Regions from separate parts of the Homo sapiens genome. Here region 2 is linked to region 1. The links come from fine-mapping of genetic effects on gene expression. A gene starts in region 1. The other region holds a variant in brackets. All regions are shown on one strand. Distances are between the middles of the regions. Region 1 holds the start of NARF (nuclear prelamin A recognition factor). Region 2 has its middle 22 kb from the start of METRNL.

Region 1 (4,375 bases):
GCCAGGTGTCAATTAAACTCTTTTCCCGGCCTGCTGCAATCTTGATGAATTGACTTTTTGTCTGTGCAGTGGGCAGGAAGAACCCGATGGGCAATGGCAAGCTGAAGAATGATGAGATTCATAAATCTGGAAAGGAGAGCTTTACTTCTCATAAAGGGTTTCAGCCTGCAGGGTGGCCATTCTGACAGACAGGGAAGCACTGCCTCTGGCCAGAAGCCAGAAACAGACACTTCCAGGGAGGGGCAAAGGGAACAGGAATCTATGAGGTGCAGTGTGTAAATATACATATTTATCAAGCTACAGGAGAAGTCATGAATATTTTTGAAGAGAGAAACATACACAAACACAATGAAGCTTCAGGCCCCTTCACGAGGGTCATGTCATCTCACCAGAACCACTCCATGGTCAGTGTCTCTTATCAGTAAGGAATACTGGTCAATTGGGCCGAAACTGCAAATGAGAGAGTTGTTATCAGCGGTGGAGTCTTTCGAAAGCGCTGGTTTCCGTTAAGCTCTTAGCCAAGAAAACCTAATGGTAGTTAGCCAAGGGTTGGCCTTAATAACAGGTGTCTCACCTCCCATCTGTCATGGCTGAGAACTGCCTTCAAGGCAACCCTGGGATCTCCTTAGCCAGTAGGGGGTTCGTGTAGTCAGTTGGGGGTCTTTGGATTTCATTTTCATTTCTCAGAGGACAGGAAGGAAGGCTCTAACATGGGGAATCCTGAGAACTGCTGCTGTCTGTTAAATACGCCTACAAGTTATTTTTCTTATGTCACACTCTCCCAGACATGTTCTTACTTCTCATTTCTGATTTCTGTAATACACACACACTGATTTCATAAAACGTTTATGAGTCCAACACTTCCATTATAGCCCTGTATCAATGTTTTGCTTAGCTGAAATCAATTTCTTGGAGGAGTAAGTGTTATCTTTACTTTGTAAGCTGTAAGGGCCCAAATCAATGTACTTGGTAAAACTATCCATAGTGAACACACGCAAATGTCAAATGGCCATCATTTAGCATCTGCCCTCGGGCTTCCGGGTCCATCACGTGGTTACTGACAGGCAGGCCGCGCATGCGCGCTGCTACTCCGCCGAGCCTACGTGACACGACGTCAAGTGGCAATGGCGGCGGACGAGGGCTGTGCCCCCGGCCCGCCCCGTTAGGAGCCGCGAGTAAGGCGAGTGTCCAACGCCGAGCTGGCTGACAGAGCCCGGCCGCGGCCTCCGCGGGCCCAGGGGCCTCCAGGCCCCGTGACCACCGGACCGAGCACCCTGGAACGGCCCCAGCTTGGCCTCGGGACAGTCCGCGCGCTCACCGACTCCCTGGTGAACGCCGCTTGGCCGCCGCCGCCGCCGCAGGACCCACGAGAAGCGGAAACCGGCGCAAGGACCCGGTCCCCCCGGCGCCGTACGTGGAGTGAGCCTGCGGTCCGCCCCGCGCGCTCCGATTGGCTCTGGGGCCTGGCCCGCCCCTTCCCGACACTGTCATTGGCCTAGGCAAAGCCGTAAGGGTGGGGAATCCTATTGGCCCAGGGGTGCGGCTTGTCCTCTCCCGGTGCTCTCATTGGCCGAGCGCGGCCGTTGGGGGTGAGGCCGCGTCGGGGGAGGACAACAAAGGGCCGCGGGCGGCGGGCAGTGGTGTCCCAGTCTCCCGGTGCTTCCCTGAGGCTGAGGCGCCCGGCCTCCCGCCCGCCGCGCTCCAGATGAAGTGTGAGCACTGCACGCGCAAGGTGAGCGCCGCGGGCCGGGGAGGCGCGCGCCTGGTGCTTGTCCTGTGGGGCTCTGGGCGGCCGAGGTTGGCGGTCCGGGCCCGCCGCTCGCTCGCTTCAGGGCTCTTCAAGGCGCCCCCGGCCTCGGCACCCTGGGCCCGCTCGGCGTGGAGGCGGCCGGCGCGGGGTCCGCTGCGCTCTGCAGGGCGGGTTCGGTCTTCGCGGTTCTCCCTGAACTTGTCCATCTTTCCCACGCCCGCGAAGCGCGGAAACGCACGGAGACCGAGCCTCTCGTGCCGCGCACCACAGTCCGAGTAAACAGCGGTCGTGGCGGGAATGATCAGAAGCGTTTCGAGAGGGTTTTAGGCGTTTTCGAACCTGCCCCTCTGAGGGTCACCGAGCAGCCGGTGCAGGGGCGGAAGCGGGTGACGGCTGCTGACCGGCGCCTTCCGCGGTTGTCTCCAGGCCATGGCAACAACCGCGCAGCGCACGCAGGGGGGTTTTGTAGCTGTTATTGCCGGAATGGGCTCCTGTGGATGCTGCTCTGTGGCTGGCACTTCTGCGCGTGACGCCGTGGCAGGAGGCTTCCTAACATTCCATGGGTCGTTCATCCCCGGTGGTGGCTGCGTCCTATTCTAAGTACACCTGTGTCCAGGGGAATTCGCCTGTGGGGTGAAGGCTACAGTTGCTTCTGCTTTTTTATTATTGTAAACAATAGAGATGTGTGTGTGTCCTTCAGTACCTGTTTCACTAGAAGGGTTAGAAGGATAGAAGGCCAGGCACGGTGGCTCAAGCCTGTTATCCCAGCACCTTGGGAGGGGAGGCCGAGGCGGGTGGATCACCTGAGGTCAGCAGTTCAAGACCATCGTGGCCAACATGGCGAAACCCAGTCTCTACTAAAAATATAAAATTAGCTGGGTGTGGTGGCGCACACCTGTAATCCCAGCTACTCAGAAGGCCGAGGCAGGAGAATCGCTTGAACCCGGGAGGTGGAGGCTGCAGTGAGCCGAGATTGCGCCCCTGCACTCCAGCCTGGGTGAGAGCGAGACTCCGTCTAAAAAAATAAATAAATAAACTAAAAGAAAGGATAGAAATACATGAGCTTCATTGGTCAGAATGTGCACATTTTCTTAAGGGAGACGAAGTAAAAGTTCATTGATAATGTTCCTTTGCTTTTTTAAGGAATGTAGTAAGAAAACAAAAACTGATGACCAAGAGAATGTGTCAGCCGATGCACCGAGTCCAGCCCAGGAAAATGGAGAGGCAAGTAGATTTTTCAGTTTTGTATCAGCCCAGAGTAAACTACTGCTGCTGTTTTTCTCTTTGGGGGCTCACAGCACCGTGCACATCACTGCTTTAAAGAAGACTGAAGTACGCGGGCATGGTGGCTCACGCCTGGAATCCCAGCACTTTGGGAGGCCGAGGTGGACGGATCACTTGAGGTCAGGAGTTTGAGACCAGCCTGGCCAACATGGTGAAACCTTATCTCTGCTAAAAATACAAAAATTATCCAGGTATGGTGGTGTACGCCTGTAATCCCAGCTACTCAGGAGGCTGAGGCAGGAGAATTGCTTGACCCTGGAAGACAGAGGTTGCAGTGAGCTGAGATTGTACCACTGTACTTCAGCCTGGGCAACAGAGTGAGACTCTGTCCCAAAAAAAAGACTGAAATAGGCCAGGCGTGGTGGCTCATGCCTGTAATCCCAGAACTTTGGGAGGCCGAGGCAGGCGGATCATGAGATCAGGAGATTGAGACTATCCTGGCTAACACAGTGAAACCTCATCTCTACTAAAAATGCAAAAAATTAGCCGGGCGTGGTGGGGGGCGCCTGTAGTCCCAGCTACTCGGGAGGCTGAGCCAGGAGAAAGGCGTGAACCTGGGAGGCGGAACTTGCAGTGAGGCAAGATCGCGCCACTGCACTCCAGCCTGGGCAACAGAGTAAGACTCCGTCTCCGAGACTGAAATAAACTTGAAGGGGCTAATAAAGACATGTGTGAGACAGTCCATCAGTGGCACAAGGCCTGTCTTCTCAGAACACACTACACCAAAACACACTGCATTGGGAACAAAGAAAACGTGGTGTAATACTGGATTTCTTCTTTTAATTTTTTTTTTCCCCTTTTGAGACAGGGTCTCACTGTCACCCAGGCTGGAGTGCAGTGGCTCACTGTATGGCTCACCGCAGCCTTGACCTCTGAGGCTCAAGTGATTCTCCTGCCTCAGCCTCCCTAGTAGCTGGGACTACAGGTATGCACCACCATGCTCAGCTAATTTATTTTTATTTTTATTTTTTGGTAGAAATGGAGTTCCACTATGTTGCCCAGATTGGTCTTGACCTCCTGGGCTCAAGTGATCCTCCTGCCTCAGCCTCCCAAAGTGCTGGGATTACAGGCGTGAGCCACTGCACCTGGCCTCTCTTCTAATTCAGTTCTTGTTTTTAAATTCTCCTTAGCTAGTAGCTATGGTCTCTGTTTATTGGATACATAACCTGAGCCTGGCTCTCAAGAATGTGATTTTACAGCCAGGCATGGTGGCTCACACCTGTAATCCCAACACTTTGGGAGGCCGAGGTGGGTGGATTACCTGAGGTCAGGAGTTCAAGATCAGCCTGACCAACATAGATAAACCCCATCTCTACTAAAAATACAAAATTAGCTGGGCGT
Region 2 (4,375 bases), 640 kb after region 1:
CCCCTGTGCCAGCCTGCAGTGGGCACCGGTTCAGCCGGTGCACACTGGGTCCTGCCCCCACCTGAGGAGCGGCCTGGGGCCTGATCAGCCCTGCTGGTGTCTGGCCTGCAGCCAGCACCGGCTCTGCTATTCACACTTGGTTACAGGTGGGTGCCCATCCCAGCAGCCTCGGAGCAGAGTGGGTCGGGCTCCGGAGGTGGGGGCGGCCACTAACAGCAGGAGGTCGTGGCAGTGCGGCTATGGCAGGGGTTCTGAGGGGCGGAAGGCAGGGGCGGGACGTGGGGACGCAGACCTGCAGGGAGGACGCCGGCTCACCCAGCAGGGAGGGGATGGCCGCCCAGGGACCCCCAGCCTGCCCGCTCTGCTTCCCCGACCGCCGGGGCAGGGGCCCCACGGGGGACGCCAGGGAACGTGAGGAATCCGGAGTCAACACTGGGCCACTGTGTGCTGCCAGCCGGGCGGGCCGTGATTTATAAAGACAGCGGAGGCTTGGCTGGTGTCGGGGCGGTGAGGTCACGGCGGCCGGGGGCTCTGGAATTTCTTCAGAAGAATTTTGCTTACCAAGCCACATACTTTTCTAGCCATCAGTTTGATCAGAGGCAAGATGAAAAATATGCTAAAAAACAAAGAAACAAAAATACACCCGGGGGGCTCCGGTGAGGGGGAGGGGCGCTGCGGGAGGGGTGGAGGGCCCAGGGAAGGGTGAGGGGCCGGGAGCCACTCTGCCCGGCACTCTCCGCCCAGAAACAGCCCAACGCCCCTTTCTTTCCCCTTTTAGCACTGCTGAGCTGGACTAAAATGCCCAACAAGGAACTTTACTAAAAACTGAGGCAAGAAAGAAAACACACATGACATAAAAATAGTCAAGGGCACATTCTTGATGGTAGATAACTGGTCTCTGGCCACAGCGGCTGCCAGGTTGGGTGTCGGCCGGCGGGTCTGCCAGTCCCACCCATAGGCACTGCACTTCCCTGGGCCGGACAGGGGGTGTGGCGGGTCTGTGGGCGGGGGGACAAGGTTGGCAGGACCGTGAGGGGGGTGGTGGGTCTGTGGGAGGGGGACAAGGTTGGCAGGACCGTGAGGGGGGTGGCGGGTCTGTGGGCGGGGGGACAAGGTTGGCAGGACCGTGAGGGGGGTGGTGGGTCTGTGGGAGGGGGACAAGGGTGGCAGGACCGTGAGGGGGGTGGCGGGTCTGTGGGAGGGGGGACAAGGTTGGCAGGACCGTGAGGGGGGTGGCGGGTCTGTGGGCAGGTGGACAAGGGTGGCAGGACCTGTGAGATGATGTGAGTGCAGCACAGTGGGGCTCTGTAAGAAGCGACCCGGGCAGCTTGAGCAGGGGCAGGCTGGGCGGTGCCTACGGGTCTCTGTCCACCGGAGCCTCTGTTCAGCCCACCTCAGTGTCGCTCCGGATGTGGATAGAAGGAGACACTGTCTGGGCCACAGACCAGGTGCTTCCTTCGTCCTGACCACACCTGCTTCTGCCCAGGAGACGCTGCAGGGGCTGTGCTCCCCGCCCGGCTACTCTTGAGTGGTCCCCAGGCTCCTCCTCCTCCCGGTTCCACCTGGAGCCGTGGGGCTGTGCCGGGGATGCCTCGCTGCAGCTGCAGCTCAGGGAGAACTCACTGCTGGAGCTTCTGCCTCTCCCGTGCCGTGGGGCCGAGCCGAGCTCCACCAGGGTCTGGACTTCTGCACGGGCAGCTGTGCTTCCCAGGGTCGTGGAGAGGGGTCCTTGGTCCCAGCCACTGTGTGACCTCGACCAGGACACTTGACTTTCCTGCCCCCAGAGGGTCTTGTCTGGACCTCCAGAGCCCCCAGCCTTGCTCACTTGGCTCTGCTTCTGGGCAGGGTGCCCTGGCATTGCTGTTGCTGGCACCTGCCGTGCCTTGGAGGGGTCTCCAGTGGGACCTCTGAGCACGGCTCTTCCTGTACTTCTCAGAGGTGAGCAGAGGGCATTTGTGGGAGAACTGGAACCTGGGGAGGAAAAACCCCAAGGCTGGCAAAGACTCCCTGCAGTCTGTCCAGTGATCCACTGAGGCTGAGTGGTGGAGGACATGGAGGCCGGCCCGGGACCAGGACATGGAGGCCGGCCAGGGACCTGGGGAAGAGAGGGCCTCAGTCTGGTGAGACCAGCCTGGTGGGTGCCTGGGGAAGAGAGGGCCTCAGTCCTGTGAGACCAGCCTGGTGGGTGCCTGGGGAAGAGAGGCCCTCAGTCCGGTGAGGAGACCAGCCTGGTGGGTGCAGGCCACCCTTGCCTGCTGTCAGGGCCTGCCCTTCTCTCCGGCCTCCAGCTGCTTTGCCCCAGCGATCAGGCGCCTGAGCTTCCTCCCCCGAGCCTGAGTCCAGCTGAGCTCCGTGTGGCTTTCCCGGTGGAGCAGACTCTGTCTGATTTCCCAACGGCTGGCGCCTCCCAGGGCGTG[C/T]TCCTTGCCACGGAACAGCCCCTTGGGGCCAGGTGTGTACTCCAGGCAGTGGCCCGGCAGTGCTGGGAAGTGCCGGTCATGGCTGCTGCACGTGGGTTGCTGTCTGGGAGAGTCCTGTGGTGTTTGCTGAGGGCGGAGGACACCGAGGACAGAGAATGGGCAACTTCCAGGGAGGGCCCAGATGCAGCCACGACTGGGGTGCATCTGGGATACCTCGTCCAGGGACACTCCCCACCATGGCCTGGTGCCTGTCCAGCAGGAAGAGCTTCAGGGCAGTAGGAAGGGGGAGTGGCCCCAGCTGCAGAGGGAAGGAGCTTGGTGGCAGGGCGGCAGGAGGGATGGGAGGTCAGGCTGACGTCCACTGGCGAGAACACTTCAGATGAAGATAGTGTGGACCCCTGCCCAGTCCCAACACAGGCCCCAGACGCCCTGAAACCCCAGGGGCTCAGCCCAAAGCAAGGGCAGGAAGCATTGCTTTACTGAGAAACCATAAAAATGTAGAATTCCACCTCAAACGCTGCTGTGGCCGATACTGAAGGTTAGAAATGAGCCGGTGGGGCCCGACACGGTGGCTCACGCCTGTAATTCCACCACTTTGGGAGGCCGAGGCAGGCAGATCATGAGGTCAGGAGATCGAGACCATCCTGGCTAACATGGTGAAACCCCGTCTCTACTAAAAATACAAAAAGAAATTAGACGGGCCTGGTGGCGGGCACCTGTAGTCCCAGCTGCTTGGGAGGCTGAGGCAGGAGAATGGTGTGAACCCAGGAGGCGGGGCTTGCAGTGAGCTGAGATTGCACCACCGCACTCCAGCCTGGGTGATAGAGCAAGAAAAAAAAAAAAAGAAAGAAAAGAAATGAGCAGGTGGGTGCTTCCCAGGGGGGCCCCGTGGCCTGTCGGCCCCATGCATGATGGCCCTCAACTCAGCCACAGCTCCCAGGGCAGCTGTGGCTCCTTGGGTGGCCCAAGACAGCTGCTGCGTGGTGTGAGCTTCGCTCATGAGGCTGGGCAGAGGCTGGGATCCCAGGTGTGAAGATGGGCCTGGGTGGTGGCTGCTGGACCTTGTTGTCACAGATGTGCCACCTGCTTCCCAAAACCGAGCACCAGGGGTCTGAGAGGTTGCTATGGGAAGGTCGCTTGCTCCAGGGGGCCCTGGAACAGTTGCTAAGTTTAACGCCCTGGCCCAGGATCCACCTGTCCTGCTGCAGACCAGCCCTGCTCATTCCTCCCTCTGGCTGTGAAGATGGAAGCCCATGGGTTGGATGCCTCGGGCCAGGGCTGTCACGCAAGGAAGCCTGGGGAGGACTGTGGCACTGACCCCATGGGCCATGGTATCGCCTCAGGGCCCTGCCCCTCTGATGTCCGTCTCCTCGGGGCCCCGCCCCTCTGGATCTCGTCTCCTCAGGGCCCCGCCCCTCTGGATCTCGTCTCCTCGGCGCCCCGCCCCTCTGGATCCCTGTCTCCTCGGGGCCCCGCCCCTCTGGATCTCGTCTCCTCGGCGCCCCGCCCCTCTGGATCTCCGTCTCCTCGGCGCCCCACCCCTCTGATCCCCGTCTCCTCGGCGCCCCGCCCCTCTGATCTCCTCTCCTCGGGGCCCCGCCCCTCTGATTCCAGTCTCCTCGGCGCCCCGCCCCTCTGGATCTCCGTCTCCTCGGCGCCCCACCCCTCTGATCTCGGTCTCCTCGGCGCCCCACCCCTCTGGAGTTCCGTCTCCTCGGGGCCCCGCCCCTCTGGATCTCGTCTCCTCGGCGCCCCGCCCCTCTGATCTCGGTCTCCTCGGCGCCCCGCCCCTCTGGATCCCCGTCTCCTCGGCGCCCCGCCCCTCTGGATCTCCGTCTCCTCGGGGCCCCGCCCCTCTGGATCTCCGTCTCCTCGGGGCTCCGCCCCTCTGATCTCCTGCACGCACCCGGCCTCGCCTGAAAAGCCCCACGTACAGCAAAGCGGCCGTGTCTTGGTGG

Evidence for each region. PIP is the estimated chance that this variant, and not a neighbour inherited with it, causes the effect.
Region 2: its variant is the best candidate, but not a certain one, in a credible set for the expression of NARF in ileum (GTEx, PIP 0.61).

The regions. Positions count from the first base shown.
Region 1 is chr17:82,457,099-82,461,473 of GRCh38, forward strand. It overlaps NARF (nuclear prelamin A recognition factor), which reads left to right and starts at 1,643. Exons shown (of 11, transcript NM_012336.4): 1 at 1,643-1,732; 2 at 2,894-2,974. The coding sequence starts at 1,706. It overlaps NARF-AS2 (NARF antisense RNA 2), which reads right to left and starts at 1,421. Exons shown (of 3, transcript NR_184099.1): 1 at 575-1,421; 2 at 340-450. RefSeq lists enhancers at 982-1,131, 1,565-2,397 and a silencer at 1,162-1,981.
Region 2 is chr17:83,099,612-83,103,986 of GRCh38, forward strand. No RefSeq gene overlaps it. Among named protein-coding and RNA genes, the nearest start is that of METRNL, 22 kb to the left of the region's middle. The variant C/T (reference allele first, on the strand shown) is at 2,418.